Regions from separate parts of the Homo sapiens genome. Here region 1 is linked to region 2. A link means that fine-mapping ties the variant in region 2 to the expression of a gene that starts in the linked region. Tissue or cell type: putamen. Region 2 holds a variant in brackets; the other region holds the start of a gene. All regions are shown on one strand. Distances are from middle to middle.

Evidence for each region. PIP is the estimated chance that this variant, and not a neighbour inherited with it, causes the effect.
Region 1: it holds the start of TRIM52-AS1, and the variant in region 2 is fine-mapped to the expression of TRIM52-AS1 in putamen (GTEx, PIP above 0.99). The same link has a PIP of 0.9 or more in anterior cingulate cortex, cerebellar hemisphere, hippocampus, nucleus accumbens and prefrontal cortex.

Annotation. Positions count from the first base shown.
Region 1 is chr5:181,258,358-181,263,465 of GRCh38, forward strand. It overlaps TRIM52-AS1 (TRIM52 antisense RNA 1), which reads left to right and starts at 2,855. Exons shown (of 3, transcript NR_102762.1): 1 at 2,855-3,027. It overlaps TRIM52 (tripartite motif containing 52), which reads right to left and starts at 2,786. Exons shown (of 2, transcript NM_001346048.2): 1 at 1,644-2,786. The coding sequence starts at 2,456. RefSeq lists enhancers at 2,487-2,536, 2,717-2,766 and silencers at 2,907-3,056, 3,167-3,416.
Region 2 is chr5:181,281,036-181,286,226 of GRCh38, forward strand. No RefSeq gene overlaps it. Among named protein-coding and RNA genes, the nearest start is that of TRIM52-AS1, 22 kb to the left of the region's middle. RefSeq lists enhancers at 1-277, 3,001-3,521. The variant T/C (reference allele first, on the strand shown) is at 2,225.

The DNA of each region.
Region 1 (5,108 bases), 23 kb before region 2:
TCTGCCTGGGCAACAGAGCAAGATACCGTCTCAAAAAAAAAAGTTAGAAGAGAAATGGAAGGTTCTCTCTTTTCCTCAGCTTCAGTATACTAAAACCCAGAAGCATAGGACATAAGTTTTTTCCATGGGATACTTTAGTTATCACCTTGGGTGAAAACATGGTACTAGGATTTGTCCTTCAAGTCAGGTTAATGTAACAGAGGTAGCAGTGACTTATGGTTAGATTTGTGCCTTAACTGTGCACTTCCCAATATTTGCTATAAAATGGGGGCAGGGGGGTGATAATAATATCTAATACATGAAGCCTGTAGGACAGTGCTCTGTGTTTGTGTTTTGACTGCAACTCAAAGAAAGCAATATATTTTTAGATGAAGTATATACATGTATATATATATAACTTAAAAGTTTCATAAAGCAGTACTTACCCTTACTATGTTCCATGTGTTCTAATATTTTCTCTTACTTCATTTTGAGATAATGCTAGGCATGACCCATTTATTTTAAGACACACTAATTGGTCAAAAAACAATTTGAAAACCACTGCTATAGGAGAACACGAGGAAATATATTTTATAAACTGTAAAGCACTACTAAGACGTGAGCAGCGGCTGCTGCATATCCAGGTCAACCTTTATGGGCCTGAAGACAACCTCTCCTTCGTTTGGGCACTGCTAGGAGTCAAATCTACCTAGACTTTTGGTAAGGAAGATGGTACTCATGCTCATTGTCATTGAGACAATTATCTAATGCTTAGAAGTCAAGACTAGAAAGCAAGGCATTAACCATATCAGCACCCAAACAAGGGAAGACAAGTTACAAGAAAGCCAAATAAAACAGCAAACATTTGTTTAGTGCTTTATGGTTAACATATATGATCTCTTTTAATCCTTACAATCCTAGGGAAAAAGTGAAGCTCAAGGAGGTTGACACCTGCCCAAGACTAGACAGTAAGTGGCAGAGCCAGGTCATCTGATCCTAAATCCCGCACTCCTTCCACTATGATAAAATACCAGGAAAGAAAAGTGATCAGGATATGAGGCACATTCTGATCCATCAAAGATGCTTATATGCTTTGCCTTTCTCTAGAAGGAAAACGGACCCCACTGAAGGTAGAGATGCAATCCCAGACTTTCAGAGGGGGGGTGTGGCCAATTGCTATCAGTAGTTTAGGACTCACATCTGGCATTTCTGTCTACCAATACATCTATTTTGACACTGCTTGTGCTGAGGTCCCAAATGTCTATTATCTCCAAGTACTGTGGCTTTCTATTCCTATCTGTACCTGTCCCAGGGAATTGGTCAAGGACTCACATTAGGGAGAAATGAAGTACTGGGTATCTGTTACTCACGTCCCTTACACTTAGGTAGACTGCCAGTATTAGCAGTAGTGGTCCGCTTCCAGTGACCGTCATATTATCTGTTCAGCTTCCTCTGGGGAAGCCAATCTGCCCCAATCTTCATGGTTTTGTGTCTCCTTTTTTACCCATATGACCATCTCTCTCCACCGTGTCTCCCTCATCAAATAAAGAGAAGTTTAGCAACTAAGTACCTGAGGAGGTGGGAAAGGAATGCTACTCATTCCTCAGCTCTCCTAGTTACCTTTCCACTCCCTTCATCCCCCCACATTCCCTCATTTCTCTCACCTGGTACTCCTGCACCACCTCCTCCAAAGGCAGCACGCTGTGCTGTTTGTGGCTCCTGGATTCTCGGCACACCACACAGATGGCCTCTTTGTCCACCTCACAGAAGAGTTTCAGGGCTTCCTGGTGTTTAAAGCACATGCCCTGATCATTACTCCGGTTTCCCCGATAAGGAGTGGGGCACATCTGGCGAATTATCTGGACCATGTTGGCCAGCTGCAAGTTGGGACGAAAGCTGCGACGTGTAAAGCTCTTTCGGCACTGGGGGCAGGTGAACTGCCCTGGAAGGGGCAAGGAAGGAGGCGGGTGGATGTCAGGATACAGCTCTTCATCTTCGTCCTCATCGTATGCTTCCAGTATTTCTTCTTCTCGGTAGACATCAATTCTCAGGTCAGGTCTCAAGCCTCCTAGGTAATAGTCCTGATCTTCCTCTTCTTCTTCTTCCTCCTCGTCCCACATATAGTCTACGTTGTCCCAATTAGTTATACCACTGTCACCGAGCCAGAGTTCATCGTCATCTTGGTCTTGGAACAACTCTTCGTCAGCATTCCCCCGATACAACACCTCTCGAATGGAGCCGTCCCATCCATCCATGGCCCCCACCGCTTCCTCGTCCTCCTCCTCCTCCCATTCATCTTCCTCCTCGTTCTGGTCCTCCTCGTCCTCCTTACTCCACAGCTGGGTCACACACCCTCGGCAGAAGTTGTGCCCACAGCTGATGGACACGGGGTCCTTGAAGTAATCCAAGCAGATGGCACACACCGCTTCCTCCTGAAGGGTCTGCATGGGGCTGGGAGTAGTGGCATAACCAGCCATCTTAATGCCCGCCGGCAGGTGTAGATACGTCAGCTTGGAGCTGAGGAGCGGGGACGCGCCTGCAGGCCTGCCTCCAAACTACTCTGGTGACCCGAGGCTGTCCTCAACCTTGCTCTTCTTCCTCGGGGCCGCAGGGGAGCTTTGACCCCCTCTCTCAGGGTGCGAACGCCCAGATCCAGACTCACAGCCTCTCTCTGGGATCGGTGGGGACAGAGCAGGCTGCAGCCCCCAGCTGCTCGGTCCTGTCACGTCTCTCGCTACCCTCAGGGTGTGCCCTACACTGCGGCGTCCGCCTCAGATGCAGCCGCTGGCTACCCTGCCCGAGGCGACGCAAAATGACGTCTCGCTCCTGCACACGCTCTGGAGAGACGCTCTAGGCCGGCGGAGGACCACGTCTCTATGGTGTGCCGGGGGCCGCGCGGGCCGGGAGTTGGGTGGGCTGGGGGACAGGCGCGCCCGCGCCGCCCGCTCCAGCTGGGCTAGTGCTGCACATTCCGGCCAGCCCCTCCTCAAGACCCCATTCCCAAGCCCCTTCTCAGCTCCCTCGGGCCGGCAGAGCGGCTCTGATCAGGTCAGCGGCGGACGCCGGGAAGAGGCCCGGCTTGGGAGAGGTGGTTTGGTGGGTTGGCTGGTTCTAGATGGTGGGGGGGTCAACACTTGAGGGGGACTGGGTCTCCGAGCCGTTGTCCAGCCTGAGCCGGAGCCCCAGGAAGGTTAGAGGGAAGGGGGATAAATCTCTCCGGAAGCCCCGCCCGGGCCGGGGCCGAGTTGGTCCGCGGCGGTGGGGAAGCCTGGGACACCACCCTGGTGCTGTCGCCCGTCCCGCCGTCCGCGCTTGGGGTGCCTTTGTGGGGATCCGGGCGCCGCACAGCTGGGAGGGCCTGCCGCCCGGGAGGCTCGGATCCGGGGCGCCCAGTGCCCCCCGCTGCCTTCCGTGAGCCGTCGGGCCCCAGCTCCACGTAGGCCTCAGACCCAGCCCTGTTTCTGCTTGCGGGGCCGCGGCTGCGCAGTATTGCGGCGTCTGCCAGCAAAGCTGCGCCCCGGTCGTGGGTCCCCTGAGGGGGCCGGGGCTCAAGTTCCCTTCGGTGCTGCCGCCTGCGTCGGGCCAGGGTTCCGAGTTCCAGCCCTGAGCTCTGTGAGCTCGGCCGGGAGGGGGCTGGATTTGGGACCACACTTCCTCACCGCCGTGGTTTAGACTTAGTTTGAGAGCGGCTGGCCCCTCCTTCCTGTCCCGGTGTCCTCCGCTGTCTGTTATGCCCTTCACTCCTCCCTGGGGAGGGAGGGCTGGGGGCGCTGTCTGGGTCTGTTTTCCACCCCAGCGGGGCCCTAGGGCAGTGTCATTTAGACTCCACTCTGTCACCTTTCCTGGAGAGGGGACCTGATCCAGGGCTGAGAGGTTTTTTTTTTTTTTTTTTTTTTTGAGATGGAGTCTGGCTGTTGCCCAGGATGCAGTGCAGTGGCGCGATCTCGGCTCACTGCAAGCTCCGCCTCCCAGGTTCACGCCACTCTCCTGCCTCAGCCTCCCGAGTAGCTGGGACTACAGGCGCCCGCCACCACGCCCGGCTAATTTTTTTTTTTTTGTATTTTTAGTAGAAACGGGGTTTCACCCTGTTAGCCAGGATGGTCTCGATTTCCTGACCTCGTGATCCGCCCACCTCGGCCTCCCAAAGTGCGGGCTGAGAGATCTTACAGTGGGAGGGGGAATCAGGCCCTGGGGAAAGGCTTCTCAGGGGTTGTCTCCTTCTGTCTTCTGTCTCTGCAGGTAGGGATAGAACCAGGTCAGGCCTGGATTTGTAGTCCCAGAGAACAGAGGATGGAGATGGGGGCTGGACGCAGCTCAGAGGGGCTGGTGCTCATGGGCTCTGTGTATGCCTTCTCCTGTGGCCTGGTTCTGTGTACAGATGTTCTACCCCAGTGCTGAGGGCCAAGACACCCTCTTGGCCTTGGTGCTGGGGGCATCCTGGGGCAAGGAGTGTAGGCAGAACTCCTCAACATTGGAGATTTGGGGAAATTGTGTCCCCTCCCTTTTAGACTCCTGTAGCCCCCTGCAGTGGCACGATCTGGGCCCACAGCAATCTCCACCTCCTGGGCTCAAGCAGTCCTCCCACTTCAGCTTCTGGAATAGCTGGGAACACAGGCATGCACCACCACTCCAGGCTAATTTCTTTATTTTTTTATAGAGACAGGGTTTCGTCATGTTGCCCAGGCTAAAGTGCCGTGGCTATTTATAGTCACGATTATTGCACCCTACCACCTCAAACTCCTGGACTCAAGTGATCCTCCCGCCTCAGCCTGTGGAGTAGCTGGGACTACAGGCATGCACCACTATGCCTGATTTACCCATTCTCTTTTAGATTTTTTTTTTTTTTGAGAGAGGGTCTTGCTCTGTTGCCCAGGCCAAATGCAGTGGTATGATCATGGCTCATTGCACCCTTGACCCCTGGGCTCAAGTGATCATCCTGCCTCAGCCTCCCAAGTAGCTGGGACTACAGGTGTGCATTACCACATCTGGCTAATTTTTATTATTTTTTTTTTTGTAGAGATGAGGTCCTGCTATGTTGCCCAGGCTAGTCTTGAACTCCTGGTTTAAGCAGTCCTGCCTCAGCCTTACAAAGTGCGGGAATTACAGATGTGAGCCACTACGCTCAGCCC
Region 2 (5,191 bases):
AACTATTTTCCCCTTCCTACCACTCCAGCTACACTACAGTTTCTGTCGCCACCAACTGCAGGGAGGCCAGCCGCGGTGCGCAAACTACAGCCTCCAGTCTGTCCTGGTCCTCTAATCCGGGCTCGGAGCAGCACCGGGAGCAGACACAGAAAAACCTGGAAGAGCCTCTCTTCTTCAGCACCAATTATATACTGAGGTTATTCATATGCGGTTCCTGGACTACATGTTCCAGGACTGGACAACCAATCAGAGTATGAAAATAAAGTCCAATCAGAGAAGGCCTAGAGGTTTTCTCTCACCCAATCAGAACATGCAGTCCAGAAACCATGCGCATAACCCAATGTGCATGCTGAGGAGGCCTCACGCCAGTTTAGGCTCTCCAGTATCTCCCACTGAGCTACTCTGTCCCCGACTTAGAGGACCAGGAGAAGGGGGAGCTGGAGGCTGGAGCCTGCCACACCGTGGCTCGTCTCACTCTGGATGGTGGTGGCAACAGAGATGGCAGTGTGGCTGGAGTTTTAGGAGGGCGGCCTGAGCCGTAGGAGGGGGCTGGAGCAGTAACATGGCGGCCTGAGCGGTAGGCGGGAGCTGGAGCAGTAAGAGGGCGGCCTGAGCGGTAGGAGGGGGGCTGGAGCAGTAAGAGGGCGGCCGGGGCGGTAGGCGGGGGCTGGAGCAGTAAGAGGGCGGCCTGAGCGGTAGGCGGGGGCTGGAGCACTAAGAGGGCGGCCGGGGCGGTAGGAGGGGGCTGGAGCAGTAAGAGGGCGGCCTGAGCGGTAGGCGGGGGCTGGAGCAGTAAGAGGGCGGCCTGAGCGGTAGGAGGGGGGCTGGAGCAGTAAGAGGGCGGCCTGAGCCGTAGGAGGGTGGGTGGCAGCTGGAGATGCTCTTGACCGGCTAGAGGTCTAGGAGAAGGTGGGGACCGTGTCCAACACTCGTGGCTGGAGCCTTGGCCACCGCGGTTCTCCTGGCTGTGGTTGGTGGTGGCGACGGAGACTGCATCTCTGTTAGACTGGTAGAAAGGTGGCAGGGTAGGTGCGCTCTCTGCGGCTGCACTGCCCGCTTGCGGGGTGGTAGGGGAGCGGGTGTGGCGTGCTTTTGGGGCTGCACTGCCTGCCGCGGGGGGCTGGTGGGTGGCGCTATCAGGCGTTGAATTGCTGGCAGTGGGGCAGGTTCGCTGCACTATCAGGCTCTACACTGCCTAAGGGGGCGGGGGGTTGGAGGCAGGTTGTGGGTTGTGTGCACTGTCGTGCACTGCCAGTGGCGGGTGGCAGGGGGTTAGGAGCATTATTAGCTGCTGCACTGGCTGATGCAGGGGGCGGGTTGGGTGAGCTATCGTGGGCTACAATGTCAGCAACAATGCCAACTGGCAGGCAGTCGGGGGTGCTTTAGGGGAGCTGTCAAATGCTGCATTGTCCGTGGGGGAAAGGGGAAGGTGGGGTGGGGGGTTGGTTGGGTGCACTGCCCTGGGCGTTCACTGCCCGAGACGGGAGCAGATTGGGGGCGCTATCTGGGGCTGTGCTGCTTGTGGTTCGGGTGGGGGGCGGGTTTGGTGGGGTGTTATTTGGTGCTGCAACACCCGTGGCGGGGATGGGTTGTGGACACTATCGAGTGTTACACTGCCAGGAGCAGAGGGGTGGTTTGGGGGCGCTATCAGGGTTACACTGCCTGCAGCAGTCTCTGGGTGTGTTGTGGGCACAATCCGGGGGCTACGCTTGTCGGTGGGGGGGCAGGTTGGGGCGCTATGGGGGGAGGCTGCACTGCTGCTGCCAGCGGCAGGTTGTGGAGGTGGCCACGACAGTGGTGGCCTCTGAGGAAGGGGCCCTTCTCCTCTTCCCGGACTCAAGGCTCTAGAGGGTGAACAACTTCTGCTCGTGTTGGAGCGTGGAGGGTGTACAGAGTTTTCACGGCAATCCTCTGACCACCCCAGGGCCCTCACACCCACCATGGTTCCCCGGCCCTTGCCCTCTTGCTGCGTGGTGTGGAGACCATCTGGGGGCCCCAGGCGTGGAGTAGTGGGCACCACGGGGGCTCAGGGTCCTGTGGGTGGAGGAGTGAGGAATGGGAACTGGTACTTGGGTGGAGAGGACTGGCTGGGTCTGAGTTTCTGCTATTCTTGCTCCCCAGTGAGCCCTGGGCACTGTGGTGTCTCCAGTCCCCACCCCAGGTCAGGAGGCCAGCTTGGTCTAGGAGGAGAGGCTGGACTTTGGAGGGTAGGTGTGAGTGCCTT[T/C]GCTGAAACTGGTCCCTGCCACCCAGTGGCCAGCATGACAAGGTGAGGCTCCAACACTGCCACTTTCTGCATCCTGTTGTAGGTTTTTCTGGCATTGTCTGCCCAGCTGCTCCAAGCCAGGCTGATGAAGGAGGAGTCCCCTGTGGTGAGCTGGAGGTTGTAGCCTGAAGATGGCACAGCTCTGTGATTCATCTCCTGCGGTTGTGGCGGCCACGGTGATGGAGACTGCAGCTCAACAGGAGTGGTAGGAGGGTACCCGTGGAGGCCAAGTAGTAGGAGCCTTGGAGGGTGGGTAGGTGCATGGAGGGTGACAGCAGCGCTGGTTCCGTTGGCGTCGGCGCTAATGGTGGCAGCAGCAGCAAGTCTAGGGGCCAGGAAGGGGGAGTAGGAGAGCTCTGGGGCCCGGCCCGGCCTGGGGTGGGTAAGAAGCTGCCGGTTCTGTACCGCAGGCCTCAGTGACAGTGGTGGACCAGGGCAAGGAGGAGTCCTCCCCCTTCTCCTGCGGTCTCTGGAGGGTGCCCTCCTTCTGCTGGCGTCTGAGCCAGGTGTGAGTGGCAGCATTGTTTCATTCTTAACAGAATTTAGGGGCTTACTATTTGTGTATCTTTTTGTTTTTGGTTGTGGTAACCCTTAAGGGACAAAAGGCTTCTTTGGCTGGGTTTTGGTGTGGTGGGATCCCTCCATGTAAGACAAAGGGTGCTTCCCTGGCAAGCTGTGTGTTAGAGGGAGTTCACGAAGGGGAAGAAAGGGAACCTCCCAGGAGGGTGGCTGCTGTGGCAGGTCCCCTGCCTCTGGGCACCCTTTGGGCCACCTAGTTTCCCCTGTGGAAGAGGGGAGGCTTAGACCGGTACCACCTGTATCATCAAAGAGGCATCCTGGCTGGGCCAGTCGATTTGACCTTCCCACTTCTTCAGCCCACCTGCCTGTGGTGTCACCTGGGGGAAGTGGATCCTCACACCACAGGGGCAGAGGCTTCTCTGGCAGGCTGATTGCTGTAGTGGATTCTGTTCTGCCTGCTGCTCAGGAGGGTTTCTGTGGCCAGGAACTGATGCTGGGACTCTCCTGTTGGTGTTTTGCTGCCTCTGTGTTGTCTCCGGCTTCTCAGGGACTCTCAGATGTGTGAAGGCAAAAAGGTTTCCTGGCTAGTTTGCGTGGTGTGGTTGGGATCACTTTTGCTACATGCCCCTCAGGCACCCTAGTGGGGGAAAAGGGAATTTTAGATTTAATGGAGAATGTGTCTATGTTGGCTGCTTATTGTTAGCAAACTTCTGAACAATTCTATTCTAAATGGTCGCCTCTTGTTGAGTAGACTCCAGCTCCATTGGAGAAGAGATGATCTTACCTGGGCTGTGTTTTCTTGCTAGCTTGAGGGTTGAAAACACTAGGTTTTTGTCTCCTTTTCCAGTTGAGTTAGGGAAGTGACATGCATTGCCACAAAACAATTCCTTCAGTTCTGGAGTCCTTAGACAGACTGTCATCTTACTAGCACCTTCCAGCATTCTCCTTTCAGTGAGATAAGGGAAGGTTCCTAATCTAAAAGGAAACATGGAATGGTGTTCTTATATTGTATGACAAGAAATATGAAATATTTCTGAAAAATTTAGTCATTCTTCTTTTAAATTTAGAAACCTGTTTTTTATATTTATAATATTTCAAGCCATTAAAAATTAGGATGTCATAATTGAAATAATCTTTTAACATTTTACATTAATTAGCATTTAGCAGATGACCATAACAAATTATTTTTAATTATGTTACATTAATTGCCAATACAGATTTCTTTCTGGTTATTACAAATCTGTTTGCAAAATTTTATTTTGTCATTTATTAAATTTTTGTATAATTAGTTGCTACATTGCAGGTATAGGAACTTCCAATATTAAGCATGATTACAAATACCTCAGTTTTCGTGTCTTTTTATTAATAGTCTAAAACTTATAAAATGCTTTGTGCATTTTATAAGTTATTGGTATAAGTTATAATGTTATTTTATAAGTTATTGGTATAAGTTATAATGTTATTGGTAACATTCTTTAGTATGAATTATCATTTGAAAAATGTTAAGAACATAGCTTTCCCATCTTATTTATTTTCTTGAGGTGGAGTCTCACTCTGTCGCCCAGGCTGGAGTGCAGTGGCGCGACCTTGGCTTACTGCAACCTCTGCCTCCTGGGTTCAAACTATTTCTCCTGCCTCAGCCTCCTGAGTAGCTGGGATTACAGGCACGGTCCACCACGACCGGCTAATTTTTGTGTCTTTAGTAGAGATGAGGTTTCACCATATTGGTCATGCTGGTCTCGAACTACTTACCTCAGGTGATCCACCTGCCTCGGCCTCCCAAAGTGTTGGGGTTACAGGTGTGAGCCACCACGCCAAGCCTATTTATTTTAGATACAGTGTCTTCCTCTGTTGACCAGGTTGAAGTGCAGGGGTGTAGTCATAGCTCACTGCAGGCTCAGACAGTCCTTCTGCCATGGCTTTCCAAAGTGCTGGGATTACAGGCATAGGCCACTGCACCTGGCCTAAATTGTGATAATTTTACAGTTTGCCTCAAACGAGGGTTGATGTCTGGGCAAGGTCTGCTGGGGGCCTCCCATATGCAGGCAGTCTCTCTGCTGTGCCCTCCACCAGCACTGAGGGTCACCTGCCCACAGGCACCCCTCTCCTTTCCCCTCTGGGGAAGGCCAGAAGTGACTTTTGAGGTTACCTGAGGGTCTTTGTCTGGAAAAGGGTGTGAAGCTGAAGCCGATGGCCTCAGTGTCCAAAGGGGAACACTTCCCACAGGCGTTGGGAAGCCACAGGCCTGACAGTGGGGTCCTGGTCTTGGCGGTCTCAGTCACCTGGCCACCCATTCCTTCCTCACTTAGGCATCCACCTGGCGGGCTGCCCACACCCTCTTCTGTCTGTGCTCAGCCAATCAGGCAAGCCAGGGTTACAGCCCTCCCTGTCCTGGGCCCTGGCTCCATG